Homo sapiens: one gene and its partners. The protein of the gene in region 1 binds, or shares a complex with, the protein of each later gene. Each region holds a gene or a part of one and is shown on either strand. Other genes may lie near its edges.

Region 1 (7,027 bases):
CACCGTGGCTCATGCTTGTAATCCCAGCACTTTGGGAGGCTGAGGTGCCAGGATTGCTTGAGCCCAGGAGTTAAGACCAGCCTGGGCAACATAGAGAGACTCCATCTCTAAGAAAAAAAAAAAGTATACCTATTTTACAGAGACATAAACTGAGACTCGGAGAAATTAAATGACTTGCCTAAAGTCATAGGAACTGGTAAAGGCAAAATTGAGACTCATGGCCTTGTCACCAACCCGGTACTCTTTCTGGTTTATAATACTGTATTTTCCTAAGTCCATCAGCTAAATATATTATTTGGTATAATGGAAAATCATTTCCACCAAATGAGGCAAAGTTAAATTTGCAGATTCTGTGTTTTCGATTTTCTCTACCCCTTGCAGCCACAGGAGGAAATTGCTACTAAGAAACTCCGACTAACAAAACCAAGTAAATCTGCAGCACTCCACATAGATCTGTGTAAAGCTACCTCCCCAGCAGATGCTTTGCAATACTTGCTCCAGTTTGCCAGGAAGCCTGTCGAGGCGGAAAGCGTAGAGGGAGTAGTCAGGATTCTCTTGGAACATTATTACAAGGTAAGAAAATCTTGAGGATCTGATGGGAGTATATCATGGGAGTTGTATCATGTCTGCAGAATGGTTAATATTACAAATAAATAGGGTATTCATTAGGAAGCTTTTATTGAGTGTCTTCCAAGTGCTAGGTACTATGGATACCGAGATAAAAAAGATACAGATCTTGACCTCAGAAAGTTATACTGTGTATAGTAGATGGAAACAAGACATGTCAATGATAAGGTGCATCATACTGCTGAAGTTACTGTGAGTGCAGTATGTGCAGAGTACAGTGGAAGCACAAAAGAGGAGTAAATATCAATCATGACCCATTCATCTCTGGAATGTGGTCCTGCTGTTCCTTTCCTAATTCATGGCCCTCATATCTAATTGCAGTGGCCCTCTTTTTTAATTAAAAATACATTTTTTTTTTTTTTTTTTTGGAGACAGAGTCTCGCTCTGTTGCCCATGCTGGAGTGCAGTAGTGCAATCTTGGCTCGCTGCAACCTCTGCCTCCTGGGTTCAAGCGATTCTCCTGCCTCAGCCTCCTTAGTAGCTGGGATTACAGGCACGTGCCACCACACCCTGCTAATTTTTGTATTTTTAGTAGAGACGGGGTTTTGCCATGTTGGCCAGGCTGGTCTCGAACTCCTGACTTTAAGTGATGCAGCCACCTTGGCCTCCCAAAGTGTTAGGATTACAGGCGTGAGCCACTGCGTCTGGCCAAAAAAACTGTTTTTGAGACAGAGGCTCACTGTCACCCAGCCTAGAGTTTAGTGGCATCATCATAGGTCACTGTAGCCTGGAACTCCTGGGCTTAAGTGATTCTCCTGGCTCAGCCTTCCACGTAGGTGGGACTGCAGACGTGCCACTACTCCAGGCTAAGTTTTGCATTTTTTTTTTTTTTTTTTTTGAGACTTGGTCTGTCACTCAGCCTGGAGTATAGTGGTGGCACAATCTTGGCTCACTGCAACCTCCGTCTCTTTGGTTTAAGTGATTCTCCTGCGTCAGCCTCCAGAGTGGCTAGGACCGCAGGTGTGTGACACCACACCCAGCTAATTTTTTTTGTATTTTTAGTAGAGGTGGGGTTTTGCTGTGTTGGCCAGGCTGGTCTTGTACTCCTGACCTCAAGTGATCCATGCACCCTGGCCTCCCAAAGTGCTGGGATTGCAAGCGTGAGCTACCATTCCCAGCCCAAAAATCATTATTATTATTACTATTATTATTTTTGAGATGGGGTCTTGCTTTCTCGCCCAGGCGGGAGTGCAGTGGTGCTATCACGGCTCACTGTACCCTCGACCTCCGAGGCTCAATTGATCCTCCTGCCTCAGCCTTCTGAGTAGCTGGGACTACAGGCATGTGCAGCATGCCTGGCTAATTTTTGTATTTTTTTTTTTTTTTTGTAGAGACAGGGCTTTGCTATGTTGCACAGGCTGATCTCGAATTCCTGGGCTCAAGCAATCCACCCTCCTTGGGCTTCCAAATTGCTGAGATTACAGGTGTGAACCACCACACTCAGCCCCCAAATTGTTAAGCTTATGGAAAAGTAGATAAAATACTATAGTGACCTACCAAATATCCATTCCTAGAATTTAACAGTTATTAGTATTTTGCCAAATTTGCTCTATTTTTTCGCTGAATTTTATTTTATTTTGTTATTATTTTTTTTGAGATGAGTCTCACTCTGTTGCCCAGGCTGGAGTGTAATAGCACTCCTGGGTTCAAGCAGTTCTCCTGCCTCAGCCTCCCAAGTAGCTGGGACTACAGGAGTGCGCCATCACGCTCAGCTAATTCTGTATTTTTAGTAGAGATGGGGTTTCACCATGTTGGCCAGGCTAGTCTCGAATTCCAGACCTCGGGTGATCCACCTGCCTCGGCCTCCCAAAGTGCTGGGATTACAGGTGTGAGCCACCGCGCCCAGCCTTGTTTTGTTGAATTTTTAAAAAGATATGTCATTTTTTTCTAATTATTTCATTACATATCTATTAAAAAGGGATACCTTTTTGTTGTTTTCTTTTTTTTTCTCACTGCTATGAGAAAGTAGAGGGACTTTTTATTTTTTAACATAGCCACCTAACCCTAATGAATAAAGTTAAGTAATTCTTTAATGTCATCTAAGAATTAGTTGATATTTAGATTTCTGTAGTTGTTCTCCCAGTACCTTTTTATAGTTGATGTATTCAAATCAAAATGCAAACCAGGTCCCCACATGGCATTCAGTCTTTTCAAAAATCTACAACAGTTACTATTTTGGTGACATTGATTTGATGAAGAAACTGAGACAGTTCTTTTGTAAAATGTCTTGTTTTCTGAATTCATTTACTTCTTTAAGGATTAACTTGTTCCTCTGTTCTCTGTATTTACTATGAACTGAAAGTTAGATCTATAGGCTTTGTTAGATTTAAGTTAAGCATATTTTTGACAATTTTAAGACTATGTTATAAATGGTGACTTGTACTTCATATTGCAGCTATCAGCATGCAAATGTCACCGTTACATTGAGGTCTTCCTTTACCCTTCTGTTTCATATCGAAACTGCCTATCCCCACCCCGCACTTCCTAGTCCCCTTCCTTGATTTTGTTTTCTCCATAGTAATTACCATCTTCTAATATTCTGTATAATTTCTTGTTAATTATGTTCCTTGTCCATTTCCCCATGCAGGAACATAAGCTTCCCTTGAGCAGGGATTTTTATGTTTTTTAATTGTTGTTTCTACAGAATCAAGAACAGTGCCTGGTAAAATAAATATTTGTTGAATGAATAAATGAATTAATTGATGCTTTTGTGATACATTTTACTCAACAAATATATATCAGACTTTGTTCTGGGCACTGGACGGTGTCCATTAGCACAATTGTTAAGTCTTATGCGTTGCAATTGTTTGCCATATGTGTCTATCTCCTTCAGACTTTGAGCTCCGTAAATTCAGAGGCTGCAGATCCATTAGTCTCTATCCCAGTGCCTGGCAGGTTCCTAGGAACATTGAAGGGACATTATAAATGTTTCACTTATGTTTTACGTGAATAAAATCAGGCTTTCTTTTTTTGTTGTTCTTTTCTTTAAAAAATTTTTTAAAAAATCGTATCTATCTATCTAGAGACTGGGTTATGAGACTGGCTAATTTTTATATTTTTGATAGAGATGAGGTTTCACCATGTTACCAAGGTTGGTCTCAAACTCCTGGGCTCAAGCGATTCACCTACCTCAGCCTCCCAAAGTGCTGGGATTACAGGCATGAACCACTGTGCCTGGCATCTTTTTGAGTGTTGCTCTGTTGCCCAATCTAGAGTGCAATGGCGTGATCACTGCCCACTGAAGTCTGGACTCCCAGGCTCAAGCCATCCTCCCACCTCAGCCTCCTGAGGAGCTGGGACCACAGGCACATGCCACCACTCCCGGCTAATTTTTTCTTTTTAATTTTTTTTGTAGAGATGGAGTCTCTCTGTGTTGCCCAGGCTGGTCGCGAATTCCTGAGCTCAAGCAACCCTCCTGCTTGGCCCTCCCAAAGGATTGGGATTACAGACGTGAGCTACCACATCTGACCAAAATCAGGATTTCTGTTCTCAAGAAGTTTTCGATCTCTCAGTGATCTATTTTCCGTTAGTCTTTTTCTTAGCAATATCTACCATTATTATTATATTAAAGATCTGTTACCAATAATCATCTATAATAATACTTCTTAGAGCAGTTAACATTATATTGCTTGTTAGAGTTTGAAAGCACTTTCCATATGTAATATTTTATTTAATCCTGGTGACAGCACCATTGTTATCTCTAAATTCCAGATATGGAACTAAGCTTAGAGCTGTTTAGTATCCAAGGTCACCCAGCTAGTAAATGGAAGGTATGGATTTGAACTTGGGTTTTTTTTTTAAAAAACCTTTTGTTATGGAACATTTCAGATATATACTATGTAAGTAAAGAGAATAGTTTAATTAATTCCCATGTACCCATTACCTGGCTTCAAAAATTATCATTTTGTGGCCAAACTTGTTTCATTTTCCCTCTTCCCCAATCCACTTCTACTTCTTTACCCTCACCTTCTCCACCAGATTCTTATGAAAATAAATTCCTGGCATCATATTATTTTAATCATAAATTTTGATTTATATCTTTAAGTGGTGAAGACTCTTTTTTTATTATTATACTTTAGGTTCTAGGGCACATGTGCACAACGTGCAGGTTTGTTACATGTGTATACATGTGCCATGTTGGCTTGCTGCACCCATTAACTCATCATTTACTTTAGGTATTTCTCCTAATGCTATCCCTCCCCCAGCCCCCCACTCCCCAACAGGCCCCGGTGTGTGATGTTTCCCGCCCTGTGTCCAAGTGTTCTCACTGTTCAATTCCCACCTATGAGTGAGAACATGCGGTGTTTGGTTTTCTGTCCTTGTGATAGTTTGCTGAGAAGGATGGTTTTCAGCTTCATCCATTTCCCTGCGAAGGACATGAACGCATCCTTTTTTATGGCTGCATAGTATTCCATGGTGTATATGTGCCACATTTTCTTAATCCAGTCTATCGTTGGTGGACATTTGGGTTACTTCCAAGTCTTTGCTCTTGTGAATAGTGCCGCAATAAACATACGTGCACATGTATCTTTATAGTAGCATGATTTATAATCCTTTGGGTATATACCCAGTAATGGGATTGCTGGGTCAAATGGTATTTCTAGTTCTAGATCCTTGAGGAATTGCCGCACTCTCTTCCACAATGGTTGAACTAATTTACACTCCCAACAGTGTAAAAGTGTTCCTATTTCTCCACATCCTCTCCAGCATCTGTTGTTGCCTGACTTTTTAATGATTGCCATTCTAACTGATGTGAGATGGTATCTCATTGTGGTTTTGATTTGCATTTCTCTGATGACCAGTGATGGTGAGCATTTTTTCATGTGTCTGTTGGCTGCATAAATGTGGCGAAGACTCTTAAAAAACATAATCTTTTGTCATGTCTAAAAGCAAAATTTAACTCAGGTGTTCTGATGTCAGATCTCAAGCACTTTAACCAGTCCATGCTGCATGCATTAATCAAGTGGACCCTAGCTCCTAAGGAAATGAGGAGGGATGCCAGATGGACCCAGTTCTAGATTGTTGACCATAGTGTTTTTTACCCTTTCTTCTGTTCTATCCAGAAATGTGGTATTTTATGTTAATATTTTAGTGGATAAAACTACTCTGGCTTCTGCTTTTTCCTACTTTTTTTTTGTGATCAGGCATTAGTATCTGAACTTATTTCACATGATTGATTCTTCACTTATGCTACTGTGCTAGTAGCTATGGAGGATGCAGAGCTGTGAGATATGTTCTTTGTCCTTTAGGGGCTAGCAGTGTAGTCGGCAGACCATATATGTAGTATGTAGATAGTAAGTGCTAAAGTTTTCCATTTGCTTATTTTTTCATTTGCTCAGCATGTCTGAATACTTACTCTGTGCCAGGCTTTGTGCTTCATGTTGGTAATAGAGATGTAGATGATGTAATCCCTGATCTGAGTCTTGAGTAAATAAGAAATGAATTAATAACAATACAGTGTTTCAGGTCTTATGAAATCTGGGGTAGGTTATGATATGGCCTCAAAGAAGGGGGCGATTAATTATTGGAAGCAGGGATCCAGAAATGCATTATAGAGTGGTAGCGATGCTTGAGAAAAGTCCTAGAAATAGATTTTGGCCAGTTGGAAGACAGGGGGAAAGACATTTTAGTTGTGAGCAACCGTGAACATGGGCATGGAGATGTGAGACAGGCTATCACATTAGAAGAAATGCAGCTAGTTTGGCTGGTGCAGATTTTAGGTTGGGAGCTCATCAAGAGATAAGACCAGAAGATTTGGAAGGCATCTGATTCTAAAGGGCCTTGTATTCTACCTTGTCAGTTTTTGTTTTAGAAATGTCACTCTGAGGGGAAGTATGGAGGATAAAGGAATTGGATGGACTGGAGTTAGAGTGACCAATTAGAAGACTGTAAGTTTGGGGAAAGGTGATGAAAGCCTGAACCAAGACAGTTTTAATGGTCAGAAGAAACAATTATTAGAGAAGGCTTCCCTGGAGGTAATTCTGTTTTTAGCTCAGGTGTGAAGGAGATCATTTATGTGTCATAGTAGAAGGAGTGCTAAGGGATTATTTCAGAAAGTAAAAGAACTTGAGTAAAGTATCCAAATGGATAAGGAATGTCACTAGGTCAGATGCTCTCTTATCTGCTTTTTTTTTTTTTTCATTTACATTTATTTTCTTTTCCCCCCCTTTTTTCCCTTTTTTTTCCTAACAAGGTCTCACTCCAGGCTGGAGTGCAGTGGTGCTATCATGGTTCACTGAAACCTCCACCTCCCAGGCTTATGCAATCCTCTCACCTCAGCCTCCTAAGTAGCTGGAACTATAGGCATGTGCCACCATGCCTGGCTAATCATTTCTTAATTGTGGTAACAATTAAAATTTATTATCTTAACCATTTTAAGTGTGCAGTTCATGTGTGTTAA
Region 2 (7,027 bases), on another chromosome or scaffold:
AATGTTTGTCAATACATTGACAGACTAGTAAGGAATATTCATAATTTGTGTGTCACCAATCTTGTTTTATCTATATTAGAATTAGATAAAACTAAAAAGAGAAAAATGCACATAACATGGTCTGGTCTTTAGCAATAGAAATATTAATCACATGTACATACTATACATATAAATAAATAATCAGCTTATATTATTTATTTTTTCAATATCTTAAATATTCAAATCTTTGTTTTGAAAGCACATACCAACAAAAACATTGACAGACTGTTTAAAATAAAGAAAAATATGATTCCTACCATTCTTTTCATTTGTCTGGTACATCGGGCACAATACCACACCAGGCGAGGGTCATTCGCTTCCTTGTCTGTCACCTGGGGTTTATGACAATCTCGGTGGTAGAGATTATGGCACTCCTGACATTCTACTAATTGATTGCCAGATGCCACCATCATTTGCCTAAGAAAACATACCATTAAACATTACACTACTTTTTTAAATGCCATAATTTAAAGTTATTTCAGGGGCCAGGTGTGCTGGCTCATGCCTGTAATCCCAGCACTTTGGGAGGCCAAGGCAGGCGGATCATTTGAAGTCAGGAGTTCAAGACCAGCCTGGCTGACACGGTGAAACCCTGTCTCTACTAAAAATACAAAAATCAGCTGGGCATGGTGGTACACACCTATAATCCCCACTACTCAGGAGGCTGAGGCAGGAGAATCGCTTGAACCCAGGAGATGGACGCTGCAGTGAGCCAAGATCATGCCACTGCACTCCAGCCTTGGTGACAGAGTAAGACTCTGTCTCAAAAAAAAAAAAAAAAAAAAAAAGTTATTTCCAGGTTGTTCTGGTAAAGTTTGGTATATTAAAAAGAAAAAAAATCCCAGAAACCCAAAGAGCAAATAACAAACCCCAACACTTGGCATGCACAAAAGCATAAGCTTTTAAAGCTTATGGTCAACCATTAATAAATATATAGAATGCCTTAATTAAATTTGGCTATTTTCTCGTCATTTCTCGTCATAATTTTTGCCTTTCTCTCAGAAGGTAGTAGACTCTGATTAGTCTTCCAACAGCCTCATAACATTTTGTATCTCCATTAAATTCCCTTATATTAGTTAGCTGTATGTTGTTGTTGTTCTTCATTAATATGAGTCACCTAAAGGTGAGTACTGGACCTAATTATCCACAGTCCTTAGCACATTACTGTGCACACATAGGGTGCTCAATAAATGTCTGATCAGATTAATAGAATGAAGCCATGTGTGTATAAAAAAGTATAAATTTCAACAGCACAAAAAGCAATCACCATAGCCTTAGATTATCAAAGGCATATATATCATAATATAATAATCACTTTCCCTCTGGAACCCAAAAATGCAGAAAATGTTACAACATAACAGATTTAAAAGCCATAGTTGGGAAAGACAAAATAGTTGACAATTTTCAATATGCTAAATTGTTATATGGGCAGTTACCTACTTATCTCCACCCCAGTTCCAAATAGTAAAAACAAAATAGAAAATGCACAACAATTTTTCTGATTTTGGGGGTTGAGGAGTGGAAAGGGTCATGTGTTCTTTATAAAGTAACAAAAGAATCTGTGGCAAGGTACAACTTACCTACAAACAACGCAGGCCAATCCCATCTCCATGGCAAAATCATCAGCACTGGTCTCCTCAAAACTGGAAAGGTCAGCCATAGGTAAATCCTTGCTACTTTGGACAGTAATGGGAGATGACTGTGTTTCTGGTTTCTCCAATCTAGGTTTCTTTGGAATATCAACTCCTTCAGTGATGTCTGATTTCATCTATAAAAAGCAGGCATCAGAAAATGATAAAGTAATGTGGTAGAATAAACTTTAAGTCACTGAAAGACGAGTGAGAAGGACAATTGGCAATGAACAAGTCCATTTTACAGATATATTCACATAGTTAGGGACAGATGTGCACATTAAAGATCTGTAGAAGAATTGCAATGAATTTATTAGTATATTAAATGAAACCAGCAAGATAGAAATAAATAAATCAGAACAGTTTAACAAATATTTGTATTTCTCTTTGTACTCTTCTATCTACTAAAGAATTATGGAAGATCGATGGATTTACTTAGACTAGTATCTACCATACAGACTTAACACATATTTGCTTCAAAGCAAATTCGGATTCCCTTCTTTAAGATATAAATATTATCAATATACCCATTAGATTTGGCAAAAATCAAAAAGTCTGATAAGACATGGAATTTGGAATTCTTATACTTTGTTGATGACAGTGTAAATTTAGTACATCTACTTTTGATAGAAATTTGGCAATGCCTAGTAATGTTGAAGATGTCATATCCTATTATATTCACTTATAGGTATACATCCTATAGAAACTATTAACATGACATATGTATAAAGTAGCTCACTCAAACTCCATTGTAATAGAAACAAAGGAGAAATATCTAATTGTGCATCAGTAGGGGAATGATAAACTGGTTAATCATTCCCCTATGATAAATCAGTAGGGGAATGATAAACTGGTATTATGTAGTAGCTAAAAGAAATCTAGATCTACATGCATTAACAAAGATACATTTCAAAAGCACATAGTTGAGTGGAGAAAAAGTTACCAAAGGATATACACACACACAGTATGATAACATTTACATAATTTTTTTTTTAAGACAGAGTCTTGCAGTGTTGCCCAGGCTGGAGTGCAGTGGCACAATCTCTGCTCACTGTAACCTCCGCCTGCTGGGTTAGAGTGATTCTCACGTCTCAGCCTCCTGAGGTGCTGGAACTACAGGTGTGCGCCACCACACCTGGCTAATTTTTGTATTTTTAGTAGAGAGGGGGTTTTGCCATGTTGGCCAGGGTGGCCAACTCCCGACCTGCTGACCTCAAGTGATCCTCCTGCCTTGACCTCCCAAAGTGCTGGGATTACAGGCATGAGCCACCACACCCAGCTTCACTTATGTAGATCTAAAAACAGAGAAATAATCTAATGTAGTTTATGAATAGCCACTATTTAGCAAAAGTATGAAAACATACGGGATAATATACTCCATCTTGAGGGCAAGGGTTACTGAAGATATCTTTCAAATGTATTTTTTTCTAACTACTAAAATCTTAATTACTATATGTAGAAATCATCTAAAAATAGACAATCCAAGAATCATCTTTGGCACTGTTCAGGTGCATACCACTCTATAAAGTTTATGTTTAGTCATTTACATCTATACTCTTTCCCATCTTTTCTTTCTTGCTTTCCTTTTTTTTTGAGACAGCGCCTCACTCTGTCACCCAGGCTGGAGTGCAGTGGCACGATCACCGCTCACTGCAATCTCTGCCTCCTGGGCTCAAGCAATCCTCCCACCCCCCACCCGCCCACAAACAGCTGGGACTACAGGTGCATGCCACCACACCCAGATGATTTTTGTATTTTTTGTAGAGATGGGGTTTCATCATGTTGCCCAGGCTGATCTTGAACTCCTGAGCTCAAGCAGTCTACCTGCCTCGGCCTCCCAAAGTGTATCTATCTTTTCTTCTTAACAACTGTTCCATCTAGGATCTCTGAGGCATAGATTAAAGTTTACACTCAAAGTTACTATACTCCCTAGGACTCAAATATTTATTGACAATAACTTTTAACCACTTAACTTTAAAATTTGTAAATTTTACTCATTTTTTGAAAAGTCAAAATCTATAGCTATCAATATATATTCACTGAGTGTTGATTATTATATACCTATACCCATTATTATATAAAAGAAATAGGCATAAAACATTGTTTCTTTCTGCTTATGGAACAACTAATTTACTTTCTTTTAACAAGATTAAAATAAAATCTTACTTTATCAGCAGGTCTCTTTTCAGCTTCCTTCTTTACCTTTTCAGTTGTGAGGACCTTGCCATTATTATTACCAGAAGGAAGACTGGATGATATTTTGGGCTCTTGCTTAATGGAAATGTTTTTTGTGCTTGAAATTTTGGGTGGCTCCACATCCTAAAAGATGAAAAAAGGTACCAGTAATTAAATATTTAGACTGATCATCATAAAAAAAGATCATTAATATAAACAATTTTCAGTTAAAAATTAAGACATTTCATTATAACCAATGTAATATTCCTTTCTTAAATAGTTAAATAGCTTTATTGAGAAATAATTGATATACAAACTGTACCTTTTTTATTTTTATTTTTTGGGACAGAGTCTCACTCTGTTGCCCAGGCTGGAGTGGAGTGCTGTGGCACAGTCTTGGCTCACTGCAACCTCTGCCTCCTGGGTTCAAGTGATTCTCCTGCCTCAGCCTCCCGTGTATCTGGGACTACAGGTGCACCACCACACCCGGCTGATTTTTGTAGTTTCAGTACAGATGGCGTTTCACCATGTTGGCCACACTGGTCTCAAACTCCGGCCTCAAATGATCCGCCCACCTCGGCCTCCCAAAGTGCTGGGATTAAAGACGTGTACCACCACACCTGGCCCAAACTACACCTACTTAAAGTGTAACATTTGATAAGTTTTGACATATGTATACGTCTGTGACACCATCACTACAATCAACATAATGAACATATCCATCATCTCTCCAAATTTCCTTGTGGCCCTTTGTAATTACTCTCTTACAGGTATACACCCTATAGAAAAATATGTCTCCCATCATCAAGCAAGAAAAATATGTCTCCCATCATCAGGCATATAGAAAAATATGTCTCCCATCATCATCATCACTTATCTGTTTTCTGTAACAATACATTAGTTTGCATTTCCTAGAAATTTATATAAATGGAATCATATTCTTTTTTGGTCTGGCTTCTTCTACTCAGCATATTTATTTTGAGATTCATCCATGTTGTTTAGTGTATCAATAGTTAATTCCTTTTTATTGCTGAATAATATTCCATTGAATGAATAGACTACAATTTATTTATCAATTTACCTATTGATGGATATTTGGGTTGTCTGCAGTTTGGGACTATTACAAATAAAGCTGTTATGAATATTCATGTACAAGTATTTATATATATATCTATGTTTTTATTTCTCTAGAAAAAATAGGAGTGGGTTATATGGTAAGTATTAATATATGCTTAATTACTTGAGAAACTGCCAAACTGTGGCAGTACCATTTTATATTTCCACCAAGCATATATGAGAGAGTTCCAGTTCCTTCCCATCCTCACCAATGCTTTGTATGGCTACTCTTTTTAAATTGTAGATGTTCTAATAGGTATGTAGTGATATCTCATTTAGATTTAATTTAAATTTCCCCAGTAACTAATGATGTTGAGCAGCTTTTCAAGTGTTCATATGGCATACATATATCTTCTTTGGTAAACTATTTGATAAAATATTTTGCCCATTTAAAAGAAATGAATCTGTTTGTTTTATTACTAAGTTAAAAGAGTTCTTCATAGATTTTGGGCACAAGGCCTTTATCAGATATATGATTTGCAAATATTTTCTCTCAGTCTGTGGCTTGTCTTTTCATTCTGTTTAAATTCAATTCCTTATTCATGTATTATAGCTTTGCTGATATAGATAACTTGTTATTTGTTGTCATTAATAGTATGCATAAACTTTGGCAGCTCTTGGAATTCCCCCTCCCCCAAAAGGAGGGCACTTTCCCATCATTCTAAACAAAACTAAGGCAGCTGAGTGCAGTCTATTTTACTGTGATAATATGTAAAAGTACAAAAGTATAAATGGGAATAATACACAACAATTTCAGAATAGTGGTTACCTCTGAGGGGGGAAGAGAAGAAAAAGGAAGGAGGAATGGGTCCTCAGATCTAGTGGTGGCAGGGCTTGATATATTATTATGCTGATTGTTTAGACAACGGGTTAGCAAACTGAGGCCTATAAATAGTTTTTTATAAACAGTTATATTAGAACACAGCCACACCCATTCATTTTATAATGTATGGCTGCGTTCACATTACCATGGCAGAATTAAATAGTTGCAATGGAGACCATCTGGCACACAAAATCTAGAATTCTTACTATTTGGCTCTTTATAAAGTCTGTTGATCACTGGTGTAGACTTAGTAAAGTGTTGAAGAAAATGTTAATAATGCAGATTAAACTTAAAAATGTGTGGTGGGCAGGTGTGGTGACACATGCCTGTAATCCCAGCACTTTGGGAAGCCAAGGTGGGCAGATCACTTGAGTCCAGGAGTTTGAGACCAACCTGGGCAACATGGCAAAATGCTGTCTCCACAAAATATAAAAAAATTAGCCAAGCATGGTGGCATGCACCTGTAGTCTTAGCTACTCAAGAGGCTGAAGTGGGAGGATTGCTTGAACCTGGGAGGGAGAGAGCGCAGTGAGCCAAGATTGTGCCACTGCACTCCAGCCTGGGTAACACAGTGAGACCCTGTCTCAACAAAAAACAACAGAAAAACAAAAACGTGTATTGTGTGTAACTAAAAAATTGAAGACAAAGTCATGCAGTATTAAACTATTACCTAATTCAGCAAAAAAGTTGTTCTAGTTGTTGACGGATGAGTTAAGTTTTAACTCCATTATTTCACATTTGCCTTCCTCATTAATGTAAATGAATATCAACCAATATTCATGTTAGAATACACTTGGAGACCTGGTAATGTTAGTAAGCATTACCTCCAGGTGATTCTTATCCATGCTAAAGTTTGAGAAACACTGGCATAAATCACTCTTCTTACACAAATCTAGTGATGAAAATATTCAGCTGAAGGCTAAAATTAAATGGACCTGGGCTTTAAAAACCTATAACAAAGTAGTTTCTGAAAACTGATCAAGAGAAATGAACTCTAGCTAGAAACCTAAGGGCAGCGTGCTTTTTAATCACAACAAATTTTTCATGTTCTTTAAGAGATAAACTTCCATTTTAGAACCCCATTAAAACAATTTTTTTTCTTTAGTAATAATAGGTTTCCCTATCTGGACAATACCAACACCCACAGTGGAATGAATTTGGTAGTATGTTTTGTAGAGCCATATTGATTTGGTCGATCTGAACTCACTGAACCTACTGCAATGAGAATGGATAGAAGAAATGA
Region 3 (7,027 bases), on another chromosome or scaffold:
TATTGTTATTATCCCCATTTTACAAATGAGAAACTAAGCCACAGAGAGCCAGAGAGCTTATTTATAATCTGATCTAGAATCATATAACTAGTGAGTGGTTGAGCAGCTAATTACTCAAAAGTAGAAATCTTGCATTTTCCTTGAGTGTTTTTCACTTACTACCCATGTTTTATCAGAGCTACCTCTAGAATGTGTCTTCTGTCCATTTATTCCAAACCTAGTTTCTCCCAGTGGTACCAAGGAAGACCAGTATCTTATCCTTCTTGTCTTGGGGAGTTATTATGGCCTCTAATCCTTTTTAACTACTTCAAACGGCCTTTCATCCCACTGACAAACATTTTACTGAAACATAAATACGATTGTGTTACTTCCTTATTGAGGAAAAGAAGGGGAAATAATTTTTTGGAGAAAATTTTAAGACAGACTATACATGGAACCATAAGTTTTTAATAAGCTTAATATTGAATGATGTTTTCTTTTTTCCTATAGCCCTTGAAGAAAGCTGTTAGGATGATGGGAGCACCTAACCTAATAGCAGACAGTATGGAATATGGACTTAGTTACAGTGTCATTTCATACCTCAAAAAACTGAGTCAACAGGTAATATCAAGAAATAGAGTGAGCCATTAAGTATTTTGAATGGTTTTGGCTAGGATGGTTAAACAGGTTAAAAGCTAGTTCTTGATGGTTCTAATGGAATTCCATTATATTAATATATTACATTTTAGAGCCATATATTACATAATTCTGTCTCACATCCATGGTGTGCTATGTTTTGAAACATTAATTTGAAAATTATATAATAATTCCTAATTTATGAAAATGGCTTCATGAGTGTGGTCCTAGACTTGCTATATGTGAACATTATTTATCTTTTGAGAAATTTAGATTAGAAAGTCATTTTTCCTTAAAAAAGAAAAAAAAAACTCTTTATGTTTTGAAACCTGCAGATTTTTCTTTCAGAATGGGAGTTTCTTTGAAATGTTTGTAGAAAACACTGAATTTTGTCATTCTGGCCATAAGTCACATTAATAAATACTATAGTAGTCAAGCAGTATATAGTTTAACTGACTGTGAAATTATTAATGTCCTATGAAATACATTATTTCTCCAGTACTTCTGACATTGCTACCTTAACTACAAATCAAAAGGCAGTTTGGGAGGAGTCAAAACATTGCTTCTTGCTTTCCAGGGAAGAACTGCATAATTATTTGCCATATTGATGTGCTAGTAAAAATGTCTTACATAATGATGATTTTAAAAAAATAATTTACCGTCACCCCTGAATTGGGAATACACATTTTTGTTTAGTGTGCATTTATATTTCATGGTTTAGGTATAGTGGGTATTAATAAATAAAATAATAAATTGAAATTGTGTTTGTCCTGCTCCAAAAGTTTAGAGTTGTAATGATTTAAAATCATAAGACATTGTTGTTTAAACTATGTTTAATTTACCCAATACTTGACATAAACTATGCTACTTGAGTTTTTAACTTCTTATATACTTAAAAAATATATATTTAATTTATAGAAGATCATAACCATTAGTATCTGATTTATTAATTTAGATTTTATCAAGATAATTCTGACTTATTTTTACTTTAGGCCAAAATAGAATCTGATCGAGTCATTGGATCTGTAGGCAAAAAAGTAGTACAGGAGACTGGAATAAAAGTCCGGAGCCGATCACATGGTTTATCAATGGCATATAGGAAAGATTTTCAACAACTCCTCCAGGGAATTTCAGAGGATGTCCCTCACAGACTGCTAGACCTTAATATGAAGGAATACACTGGGTTCCAAGTTGCTTTGCTGAATAAGGTAATAATCATGAATTTAGTGCTACTCTAGTTATGTTCTGTTATGTTACTGGATAAATCACATTTTCTGTTAACTCTGACATTCAGTTTATCCAGACTTTAAAGAGTACTTCTGTACTCTTGTAGACTAATGATCATTATACTGTCACTGCTAGAATTAAAACAGTGTACATGGTGTGTGAATGAATGGATAGATTGATGAAGAGTAAACTAACTTGTTTATTTTATAGATGAGAAAACAGAGGTTTAGAAATTGCTTTAAGTTGCAGTAGTGGATGGTAGAATTCACTATAGTTTTGTACTTAAACTGATGACCCTATTAGACCCACAGCATGATCCAAAAATGCTTTGTGAGTACTCATGGTTACAGATATCTTTATCCCAGCAGCCTTTTTGTAGAAATAGGCAAGCTGATTCTAAAATTTATATGGAAATGTAAAGGTCCTGGAATAGCCAAAACAATTTTAGAAGAATAAAGTTGGAAGACTTATATCATCTGATTTTAAAACTTATTGTAAAACTTACTACAGTGATCCATGCAGTGTGGTGCCATCATAAGGATAAACATAGGAGATTAGTGGAACAGAATTGAGTCTAGATGTAGGCCCTCACACACACAGTCAATTCTTAACAAAGATATTAAAATAAGGTAGTGGATAAGAAGACAGTCTTTTAAACAAATGGAACAATTGGATATCCATATGCAAAATAATGAATTTGACCATTACCTCATATTATTTGAAGTGGTCGTGATCTTAAATGTAAGAACAAAAACTATAAACTTCTAGAAGAAAACATAGGAAAAAATCTTTGTGATGTTGAGTTAGCAAAGATTTCTAAAAGCACATAGCAAAAATGTTGATAAATTGAATTTCATTAAAATAAAAAATAAACTTTGCTCTTTAAAAGAAACATTAAAAATGAAGAGGGAAGCTACAGCTTGGGAGAAAAGCACATATCAAATAAAGGACTTGTATCAAAATATATAAAGAATTCATATAACTCAATAATAAAAGGACAAACATGGGCAAAATATTTGAACAGACATTTCACCAAAGAAAATATGCAAATACAAATAAGAACATGAAGTAACACTCAGCCTTATCAGCCATTAGGGAAATGCAAATTAAAACCATAACGAGATACTACTTCATAACTGCTAGAATGAATAAAATTTAAAAGACAAAAAATACAGGGATTGATGAGAATGTGGAGCAACCCTCCTAACATTACTGATAGAAAATAGTTGATATTTTCTTAAGAAGTGTAAACATAAATTTGCTGTACAATCAGTCATTCTACTTGTAGGCTTAGCATGCCAACATGGCAGCATTTTTCATAATAGCCAAAAACTTGTAACAGTCCAAGTGCCCATCAGCTGGTGAATAGATAAAGAAGATGTGGTGTGTCCATATAATAGACTACTACTCTGGAATAAAAAGGAACAAACTACTGATACATGAATAATGTCAATGAATCTCAAAAACATCATGCTAATTGAAAGAAGCCAAGTACAAAAGATTAGACGTTGCAAAATTCCATTTATAAAATGGAGCATAGAAAGAAAGCAAGTCACGTGGTTGCCTGGGGATAGGAATAGTGATTGACTGCAAGTGGGTACAACAAACTTGGGGATGGTGGAAATGGATTATGATGATGGTTTCACAACTATAAATTTACTAACATTCATCAAACTATATACTTAAAATAGGTGATTTTATGGTATATAAATTACACATCAAAGCTGTTTTTTAAAAAACTTCAGTTTTTAAAATTTGGAGATTGATTTTTACTTAAATGAGTTTACTTCTTTTATCCAGAATATATAATAAAATCTTTAGAGTTAGATGGTGAATTGAGATTGTTTGGTTGAGCTCACTACCAAATTTTCATCTTTTGGCCCTGAACCGGTACATTAAGATTATATCATATGTCTTTATTTTATTTTTTTTAAGCTAACCAGTTTATATATCTTATTTCCAAACCTATGCTGCAGGCTAGAGATTTTAGTCTCTTGTAATTCTATGTTTGACAATAAATTTTGTCCTCGAATGTTGTTTAATAGGATTTGAAGCCACAGACATTTAGAAATGCTTATGACATACCAAGACGAAATCTTTTGGATCACTTAACAAGAATGAGATCTAATCTTTTGAAGAGCACTCGCAGATTTCTGAAAGGACAGGACGAAGGTTAGAACATAGTTTCAATACTGGTATTTTTAATTTTTTTTCTTTATAGTCTGAAAAAGCATAGCATGGTGATGTAAATTTCAAAGAATTATTACAGTACTATAACATTCTTATTGTAAGTTCAAACAAATGAAGTAAAAGGTGAATCATCCCTGATTCTGTACCTTTCTTCCTACCATCACTGTTGCCCCAAATTCTCTTCCCTAGAGGTAACAACCTTTCTTAACAGTTTAGTTTCCTTTTATAGCTTTTCTCATGCATTCATGCGCGCACGCGCGCGCACACACACACACACACACACACACACACACACCCACTTATCAAACTGTATACTTAAAATAAGTGATTTTTCTTATCTCAATCATTTTCTTGAGATAATACCAGTATCTGATGGTTTAACTCTGGATGGCCAGTTTCATGACATTTTCTGATAATTCCTTCTTCACCTTTATCCATGGCACCTACTATAAATCAAGTCAGATGAGACTTTAAACGTTTGCCACCTCTGATTTAAGAGTTCTAACAATAATTTTATATAAAAGAGTTAGCTATGCGACTTTTTTTTTTTTTTACCATACTGTACTTCCATTTTCTACAAATTCTACTATAATTAAATTCTGTTTATTTGGAATAGCGCAGAAGAGAAGAGATACATCTTTCACGGTAAGATCACACATACTTTTTTTTTTTTTTTTTGAGTCAGAGCCTTGCTCTGTCGCCCAGGCTGGAGTGCAGTGGTGTGATCTCGGCTCACTGCAACCTCCGCATCCTGGGTTCAAGCGATTCTCCTCCTTAGCCTCCCTAGTAGCTGGGATTACAGGCACGTGCCACCATGCCCTGCTAATTTTTGTATTTTTAATAGAGATGGGATTTTGCCATGTTGGCCAGGCTGGTCTCATTCCTTACCTCAAGTGATCCGGATGTCTGCCTCAGCCTCCCGAAGTGCTGGGATTACAGGCATGAGCCACTGCGCCTGGCCACACATACTTTCTGTATGTGTGGAATTAATGGCAATGTATGTATGTGTGAAATTAATGGCAATTTTTGTTTTGTTTAGATGATGAGATCAGTATTTTAAATTTTATTTTAAAATATTTTGTCGCAGTGGTTATAATTGCACCAAACAAATTTAGAATATGTTGGTAAAGAAGACTGTCTAGAATAACACTAGGTAGCATTCATATATAAGGAAACATTATTTGAGAACTAATTGGAGGTTAACTTTTTTTGCTGTTGTATTCTTTTTGAAAGATCAAGTGCACAGTGTTCCTATAGCACAAATGGGGAACTACCAGGAATACCTCAAGCAAGTACCTTCTCCACTAAGAGAACTTGATCCTGATCAGCCACGAAGGTTGCATACATTTGGCAACCCCTTTAAGCTGGATAAGAAGGTAATTTTGAAATGTTCTATTATGTAATTTGTTTATGGTAGGCACTGTCAGTTTTATAGTTCTTAATTTAACTGAAGTAAGCTGAAGCTATTTTCCTGGTAGAGTATCTAATAAATATGAACAGAATATAGTTACCTTCATTGGAATTGACACTGGTTGTGCCATTTAAACATTGTTTGTAAATTCAAGAAAGTTGTATTCTTTTTTGCTAAAGGGTATGATGATAGATGAAGCAGATGAATTTGTGGCTGGACCTCAAAATAAACATAAACGACCCGGAGAACCAAATATGCAAGGGATCCCTAAAAGACGTCGGTGTATGTCTCCACTACTAAGAGGCAGACAGCAGAATCCTGTTGTAAACAATCATATTGGGGGAAAAGGACCACCTGCACCTACAACTCAAGCACAGCCAGATCTTATTAAACCTCTTCCTCTTCATAAAAGTAAGAATTGTTTTTTTCTTAAACATTATTTGCTGCCTTTTGGTTCCTTTTCAAGGAAGATATTTTTGTTATAGATTATAGAAGGAAATTGATTAGTAGTACAATGAGTGAATGAATGTATAGAAAATTTGTTTAAATGAGCATGTAATCATTTTTGTATGTCTTTTTAATGAACATTTGAACATTTCTTATTTATGATGCTTTATTAGCTATTATGTTCTAACATACATTTGCAAATCTTTCAAAATAATACTTTCGAAAGGAGCATTATCACTATCCACAGAAAGATGGTTTTCAATTTCAGTTGAAGTCAACTAATTATTAAATATGTATGCTATTTTGGATAATGCTGTGCTTTGAGGTATACCACTGAAGACAGGAGTGATCTCTGCCCTCATTTATAATCAGCAAGGAAGGTCAGTCATTGAACAGATATTGGAAGTATGTTGAATGTTACGAAAAAGATGTCAAGTATATTCTGGAAGCATTTGGCAAGAGGATTTAAGTCAATGAAGTCAAGGCACTTAACTGAAGAAGTTAATGCTTAAGCCAAAAGCTGTGCCGTTTGCTTATGCTGGAGCAATAGTATGTGCAGAGGCATAAAGAGAAAGACATTAAGGGAATTTAAAAAATTCCAGTATAGCAAGGGTGTTGGGAATGAGGTAAGGTGAGAACTGAAAGATAGAAGCCAGATTATGGAAGGTCTTGGAAGCTATTTTCAACTTTATTCTAAGGACAGTGAGAATCCACTGAAAGGCTTAAAATGATGGTGACCTAATCTGATTAGCATTTTATGAAGACCAGGTTGACTGTAATGTGTGTGGACTATTATCAGAGAGGAGCAAGAATGAATGTAGGGAAACCCTAATGAATTAATGGACTTATCAATTATATATAGTGGTCATACTTACAGCATGTTAACTGAAGGGAAACAAAATATTATATGACTCCTGATGGAAGTATCCAATACTGCCTTTGAAGTTGTCTTACCCAAAAAAAAAAAAACCAAACACCAAAATTGAACATCAATGTAATCAAACCAATTTATAGGAAATACAGGGGACAGAGAAACATGTGGGATACCGTTAGTAAAATCCAGATTGTAGAAAACTCTACAGGACAAAGAATCTGTTGGGTTTTTTTCCTGGAAAAAAAATATTTTTTCCAGAAAAA
Region 4 (7,027 bases), on another chromosome or scaffold:
AGTGAAAAGCCTCAACCAGTCCCTCCGCCTCGGGCACCTCTTGTGCCGCAGCCGAAACCCTGACTTTCTCCTCCACATCATCCAGCGGCAGGTGAGTGCCGAGGCTCCAGGAGGTAGAGATGGTGGTCTTGGGAGGCCCGGAACCTTCCGGAGGCCTTGGTGGCCAGAAGAGGGCAGGACACACCTGGATGCGGGGCCCATGAGCTGGCTGCTGCGTGTCGCCCTTTCCGGCTCCGCGGTCACCCGGGGGGCTGGCGGCAGGTGTTGGGCCTGGAAGGTGCTGAGCGGGCGCCACTGTCGCCTGCCCAGGCCTCCTCGCAGTCCATGCCCTGGCTGGCGGACCTGGTACAGTCCAGCGAGGGCTCCCTGGACGTGCTGCCCGTGCAGTGTCTGTGCGAGTTCCTGCTGCACGATGCTGTGGACGATGCTGCTTCCGGGGAGGAGGACGACGAGGGCGAGAGCAAGGAGCAGAAGGCCAAGAAGCGGCAGGTCAGGGCCGCCCACCCCTCAGCCCCCCCGCCTCTCACCCCGCACCCCTGTCAGGGCAACCCATGCCTGAGCCCACCAGCCGCGCACCCCACGTCCTACCCGCCTGGCCTGTCACCTGCACCCCTGAGAGCCCCTTCCTCCCTGCAGAGGCAACAGAAGCAGCGGCAGCTGCTGGGCCGCCTGCAGGACCTGCTACTGGGCCCGAAGGCTGATGAGCAGACCACGTGTGAGGTGCTGGACTACTTCTTGCGGCGCCTCGGCTCCTCCCAGGTGGCCTCCCGCGTGCTGGCCATGAAGGTGAGGTGGTGGGCGGGTCTTTCTGCGCACGCTCTTCATGTTTAAAATGAGTAGGCTGGGGACCGGGCACGGTGGCTCACGCCTGTCATCCCAGCACTTTGGGAGGCCAAGGCAGGCAGATTACCTGAGGTCAGGAGTTGGAGACCAGCCTGGCCAACATGGTGAAATCCCGTCTCTATTAAAAATAGAAAAAATTAGCTGGGCGTGGTGGAGGGGGCCTGTAATCCCAGGTACTCTGGAGGCTGAGGCAGGAGACTCGCTTGTACCTAGGAGGCGGAGGTTGAGGTGAGCCAAGATTGTGCCACTGTACTCCAGCCTGGGCAACAAGTGAAACTCCATCTCAAAAAAAAAAAAATAAATAAATGAAAAATAAAGAAGTAAAATGAGTAGGCCTGGGGCAGTGGCTTGCTCTTGTCATCCCAGCACTTTGGGAGGCCGAGGTGGGAGCATCACTTGAGTCCAGGAGTTTGAGACCAGCCTGGGCAACACAGGAAGATCCTCTCTCTACAAAAACTGAAAAAATTAGCCAGGTGTGGTAGTGTGTGCCTGTGTTCCCAGCTACTTGGGAAGCTGAGGCAGGAGGATCACTTGAGCCCAGGAGTTTGAGACCAGCCTGGGCAACATAATGATACCCATCTCTACAAAAAATAAAAGATGAGAAAAATGAGCTGGGTGTGGCAGCATGCACCTGTGGTCCAAGCCACTTGGGAGGCTGAGATGGGAGAATCACTTGAGGCTGTAGTGAGCTGTGATCACACCACTGCACTCCAGCCTAGGCAACAGAATGAGACCCTGTCTTAAAAAGGAAAAGTAAAAATCAAATGAGTGTTCAGTGCACTCTGACTGTATTTTAAGTTCCTTCCCTGCGTAGGAAGGATGCGCTAGTGAAACGTGAAGGTGGACCCTGCCGCCTGCCTGGTGTTCCTTTCTTGCTGGTGACGGGAGGGTCCAGAGTGGCTTCAGGAACTTGAACAGAAGCATTTAACAGAAAGAGCTCAGTCTCGTTTTTCCCTTTTACCTGCGGCCTCTCCCGTGGGAAGCAAGCGCCACATTCTCCTCGGGGCTCTGAGGGCACCATGCGTGTGCTCCCGGGGCCAGGGTGAGACCCTGCCTGCACTGCCGAAAGCCGGCCCAGCTCATGAGTGTCTGCCACAGGGTTTGTCGCTGGTGCTTTCGGAGGGCAGCCTGCGGGACGGGGAGGAGAAGGAGCCCCCCATGGAGGAGGATGTGGGGGACACAGATGTGCTGCAGGGCTATCAGTGGCTGCTGCGGGACCTGCCTCGCCTGCCTCTGTTCGACAGCGTCAGGAGCACCACAGCCCTGGCCCTGCAGCAGGTGAGGGCGCTGACCGGGGCCGCGGCAGGGAAAGATGAGAGGGCCGCAGCCCTGCCCTGTTGCCGCTCAGACCACCCTCCCCTCCAGGCAATCCACATGGAGACTGATCCCCAGACCATCAGCGCCTACCTGATCTACTTGTCCCAGCACACGCCTGTGGAGGAGCAGGCCCAGCACAGCGACCTGGCCCTGGTGAGGCAGCAGGGTCAGCCAGCAGTGTGGCCCTGGGGAGGGGACGGGGCCAGCCGGCAGTGTGGCCCTGGGGAGGGGACGGGGCCAGCCGGCAGTGTGGCCCTGGGGAGGGGACGGGGCCAGCCGGCAGTGTGGCCCTGGGGAGGGGACGGGGTCAGCACAGAGACCCTGCCCTGGGGAGGGTAAGGGGCCAGTGGTGCAGTGCCCTGGGCTGGCGGCTTCTTGGGCCACAGGGAGGCATTGAGGGTGGGAGGGCCGTCACGGCTGCTGTGCTGGGGCTTCTATGACCCCGTGGCCACCTGTGTCCCTTCCTTAGTCACCACTCACTCCCTGGAGCCTTTCTCCCCAGACCCTGAGGATGCGAAGCCACGGGGGTGAGGGTGCCTTGTTCACAGCAGGGTGGAATCTGAGCCATCAGCCTTCTCCCCGACGCCAGGAGGGTTTGGGCTGTGGGCCCAGGTCGCTGGGCACCTGCCCGCTGTCCTCAGCATCTCTAGCTCACATGTGTGGCGCTGACTCCCATCTTCTCTCCTGGGTGCTGTCCTTCTCTGCTGGGCTGCTTCTCACTTTGCATCACGGTTCTCTTGTCCACAACCTGCGCTGTGACCTAGTGAAAGTTGGTGGCCCGAGTCCTCAGGGAATGAGCGATAGGTGAACAGATGGTGGCTGCCGGGCAGAGGGCAGCAGCGTCCGCTTTCAGGGCCTGGTCATTGTCCCTGGCTGTGAGAGTCGTGTCCTCCCTCCCCCCTGGAGAGTCCGACCCAGCTCTGGTCGTCTTCCCTGGCGGCCTGCGGCTGAGTGAGGGTCTGCGGTGCCGCGGGCCCTGCTTAAGATCCCAGTGAGAGCGTGCCTGCGACGAGGTCACCCCAGCTGGCCGGAGAGCAGAGCTGTCTCGGAGCCTCTGACGCCCCCCTGTCCACACACCAGGACGTGGCCCGGCTGGTCGTGGAGCGCTCCACCATCATGTCCCACCTCTTCTCGAAGCTCTCCCCGAGTGCCGCGTCGGACGCCGTGCTGAGCGCTCTGTTGTCCATCTTCTCACGCTACGTGAGGCGCATGCGGCAGAGCAAGGAGGGCGAGGAGGTCTACAGCTGGGTGAGGGCGAGGAGGTCTACGGCCGGGTGAGGGCGAGGAGGTCTACGGCTGGGTGAGGCTGCACGGCACGCTCGGTGCCAGCTGGGTACCCTCGGCGCTGGCTCAGGGTCCCTGAACCTTACGGCCTGACTCCACCTCTTTTCCCACAGTCGGAGTCTCAGGACCAGGTCTTCCTACGCTGGAGCAGCGGGGAGACAGCCACCATGCACATCCTCGTGGTCCATGCCATGGTGATCCTGCTGACGCTGGGCCCGCCTCGAGGTGAGCCGCCACAGGCCCCGGGAGGGGCAGCTTCGTGCCAGGTGGGCCACAGCCCTGACCACACCCAGCGGCTTCCGCATCCTTGCCTTGCTTCTGGGCGGGAAGCCCCCCAGCCCTTCAACCCTGTGTCCTGGCTTCTCTCCTAAAGAGGAGGCTGCAGTCCGTCCCGCGTGTCTCTGAGCACTTGGTGGACGTGTGGGAGATCCCCACGTGGTGGGACCTCCCAGCCTGTAGAGCCCTGAGCTGGAGGGCCTGGTACAGCCTGGGGTCAGAGTCCTCACTGCCCCAGCCTAACCGTGTAGGCCTGCGGTGCCTGGGAGGCGGCAAACTCGGGATTTCACCGTGTGGAGGTGCGACATGAGGCTGCCAGGCAAGTGGGTCCTCTCCCCGGGGCCCAGGCGAGTGACCCTGAGGACGCTCTGGCCAGCGCAGTGTCTGGAACCCAGCGCCTACCCAGCCGTGCCCTCTGCGGCCGCAGCCTTCCCCTTTACTCCTGGCTGACACCATGAACTGCTCCCACGTTCACCCCGTTGTGTCTGTCAGTGGGGGAAGGGGGCGGAACCCTCATGCTGGGGTTCGGGTGGACGTGGGTGGGTGGTGACCCCTGTTGGGAGGCAGACACAGTCACAGGCGTCGCCCTTGGGAAGGGCAGCCGGAGAAGCTGGCCCTGTGTGGGCCTGGGCCTGTGGGGTTTCCCAGTGGCTTTGCGGAGCCAGAGAGCTGGATGGGACCTGGTCCAGCCAAGCAAAGCCCCGAGGGCAGGGGCTGGATGGGGACACGCACATGTCCCCTTGGCCACGACAAAATGGCAGTGATGCTGCTTGCCTTCCTGCAGCATCTGTGAGGATCAAATGCGTGCACCTACGCAAAGCATCCGCACATAGCAAGTGCTCACCTAGCACAGGAGCCCCGTGCTCCTCCCAAGTCTCAGTTTCCTTCTCGGGAGAGGAGGTGCCTCTAGCCTTGGCACCAGCGGTGCTTGGGGCTGGGCCCCGGTGGGTCTGAAGGCTGCTCACCCGTTGTCCTTCCTGAAGCCGACGACAGCGAGTTCCAGGCGCTGCTGGACATCTGGTTTCCGGAGGAGAAGCCACTGCCCACCGCCTTCCTGGTGGACACATCGGAGGAGGCGCTGCTGCTTCCTGACTGGCTGAAGCTGCGCATGATCCGTTCTGAGGTGCTCCGCCTGGTGGACGCCGGTACGGTCCAGGCTGGGCTTGGGCAGGGGCTGCTGACTCAGGGGTCCCGGGCCCCTTGCCTGCTCCTTGTGGGCCTGGGCAGCCTCCGGCTGTGGCAGAGGAGAAGACTGGCCGGGTAGCCTCAGGGGATCCTGCAGACCATATGTCCTGGCCACAGCAGGCTGTGCTGGACCCTGGGAGGAGACCTAGGGCAGCCTGTGCTGGCCCCGTCCGAGAGGGTCTTACTGTCAGGCTCAGGGGTCTAGAGTGAGAAACAGGTCCTCGATGGAAAAAAGAGAAAGTGGTCTGGGGTTGGAGAGGAGGAGGAGAAGTGGTGGGGCCTCTGGGTGGGTCCCTGAAGGATTTGGGGGTTGGAGCTGCAGCCGGGGACCCCAGCAAGGACTGAGCAAGGGGCCTGGGCCCACGTAGGTCAGTAGGGCTGGTGCCTGCTCACAGTGAGGAGACACTGGGGGCAGCTTGGTGAGTGAGTGGGGCTGGCTCTGGAAACCCATGACTGCCAAGGGGTCTAGGCTGTTGTGTGCCCCCGGAAGCCACCGATGGCTTCGGGGCAAGAGCGCCCTGAGCACTGAGAGAAGATAGTCACAGCAGCCTGCGTGCAGCTTCGGAAGTGTACTGCGCCGTGCCACCATAGGCCCTCTGGAGCGCCCACCCACCCCTGGGGATGGGGCCCACACAGCTGCCATCCAGGGTGCAAGGTGGTCCCGACACGCTGCCCCCTTGTGCGGCCCCAGGTCTCGGGTGGGGTCACCGAGCCCACGTGGCCCAGGGTCTCAGGTGGGGCTGCCGAGTGTGCACTGCCCCAGGTCTCGGGTGGGGCTGCCGAGTGTGCACTGCCCCAGGTCTTGGGTGGGGTCACCGAGCCCACGTGGCCCAGGGTCTCAGGTGGGGCTGCCGAGTGTGCACTGCCCCAGGTCTTGGGTGGGGTCACCGAGCCCACGTGGCCCAGGGTCTCAGGTGGGTGGGGTCACTGCACACAGGCAGCCCCAGGTCTCGGGTGGGGTCCCGAGTGCGCATTGCCCGGGTTTTGGGTGGCGTTACGGAGCGCGTGCACCCTCAGCCCTGCAGGACCTGGAGCCGCAGCAGCTGCTGCTGTTCGTGCAGTCGTTTGGCATCCCCGTGTCCAGCATGAGCAAACTCCTCCAGTTCCTGGACCAGGCAGTGGCCCACGACCCCCAGACTCTGGAGCAGAACATCATGGACAAGAGTAAGATGCCAGGGACCTGCGGAGTGGGTTCACACACGCTGACCGAGCCCCAGCCCGGCCAGGCTTTTGGGGCCTGGGTGCGAGCGGGTGGGTGATCCGAGGTCGGGTGGGTGTGGGTGGCACTCGAGGGCAGGCTTAGACCTGTGGGTTGGTGAGGCTGGCACAGTCAGGAGGGAGCCGAGGCCTGGGCCTGCCCCAACCCTGGGGCCAGGCACCCCCTAGGGCCGTGTTTTGAGCTTGGAGGGAGCTGTTGGGGCCTCAGTGCTGACTGAGCTCACCCAGCTTCTGAAGTCCTTGGGAAGTGCTGGTGACGGTGGGGGCATCTCCAACTCTGGTTTCTGTGGAGAGGGAAGGACCTGCTCCCTGGCCCCTGGCCGCGCCCAGGTGTGACCCTGCTACGGTTTGCAGATTACATGGCCCACCTGGTGGAGGTCCAGCATGAGCGCGGCGCCTCCGGAGGCCAGACTTTCCACTCCTTGCTCACAGCCTCCCTGCCGCCCCGCCGAGGTACTGGGGAGGGGTGGGGCCAGCACAGAGACCCAGCCTGGGGAGGGGTGGGGCCAACACAGAGACCCAGCCTGGGGAGGGGGACGGGGCCTGCACAGCCACACAGGGCAGTGCACACTTGCTGATGCCACCTGAGAGGGGCCCCCACAGAAACTCTCAGCCTGTCTTTGGGCAGCATTTGCCTCTGGCCAGCATGCACGTTCCTGTTCAGAGTCTTGAGATCCCTGTGGACCTGAGCGAGACCTGGGGTCCTTGGGGAACACAGAGCCCAGGTCTGAGCTCTTCCTCCTGGGTGACAGTCCCCGGGCAGGACTCGCCATGGCTTGTACAGTTCCCACCGCTGGAAGCAGGTCAGAAAGTGTCCAGCCACTGACAGTTCTCCTGTCTCTGCAGACAGCACAGAGGCACCCAAACCAAAGAGCAGCCCAGAGCAGCCCATAGGCCAGGGCCG

Evidence for each region.
Region 2: INTS4 (region 1) and INTS12 share a complex: the UniProt entries of both Homo sapiens proteins name them as parts of the integrator complex.
Region 3: INTS4 (region 1) and INTS6 share a complex: the UniProt entries of both Homo sapiens proteins name them as parts of the integrator complex.
Region 4: INTS4 (region 1) and INTS1 share a complex: the UniProt entries of both Homo sapiens proteins name them as parts of the integrator complex.

Annotation. Positions count from the first base shown.
Region 1 is NC_000011.10:77,984,654-77,991,680, reverse strand, and holds part of INTS4 (integrator complex subunit 4), read left to right. Parts: intron 1-381; coding exon 382-573; intron 574-7,027. UniProt on the Homo sapiens protein: Component of the integrator complex, a multiprotein complex that terminates RNA polymerase II (Pol II) transcription in the promoter-proximal region of genes.
Region 2 is NC_000004.12:105,691,680-105,698,706, forward strand, and holds part of INTS12 (integrator complex subunit 12), read right to left. Parts: intron 3,990-7,027; coding exon 3,837-3,989; intron 1,808-3,836; coding exon 1,620-1,807; intron 457-1,619; coding exon 297-456; intron 1-296. UniProt on the Homo sapiens protein: Component of the integrator complex, a multiprotein complex that terminates RNA polymerase II (Pol II) transcription in the promoter-proximal region of genes.
Region 3 is NC_000013.11:51,373,035-51,380,061, reverse strand, and holds part of INTS6 (integrator complex subunit 6), read left to right. Parts: intron 1-489; coding exon 490-600; intron 601-1,607; coding exon 1,608-1,823; intron 1,824-3,887; coding exon 3,888-4,014; intron 4,015-5,265; coding exon 5,266-5,408; intron 5,409-5,622; coding exon 5,623-5,854; intron 5,855-7,027. UniProt on the Homo sapiens protein: Component of the integrator complex, a multiprotein complex that terminates RNA polymerase II (Pol II) transcription in the promoter-proximal region of genes.
Region 4 is NC_000007.14:1,480,384-1,487,410, reverse strand, and holds part of INTS1 (integrator complex subunit 1), read left to right. Parts: coding exon 1-91; intron 92-309; coding exon 310-489; intron 490-636; coding exon 637-786; intron 787-1,941; coding exon 1,942-2,121; intron 2,122-2,208; coding exon 2,209-2,313; intron 2,314-3,240; coding exon 3,241-3,408; intron 3,409-3,557; coding exon 3,558-3,669; coding exon of another isoform or gene 3,670-3,710; intron 3,711-4,703; coding exon 4,704-4,865; intron 4,866-5,922; coding exon 5,923-6,069; intron 6,070-6,477; coding exon 6,478-6,576; intron 6,577-6,969; coding exon 6,970-7,027. UniProt on the Homo sapiens protein: Component of the integrator complex, a multiprotein complex that terminates RNA polymerase II (Pol II) transcription in the promoter-proximal region of genes.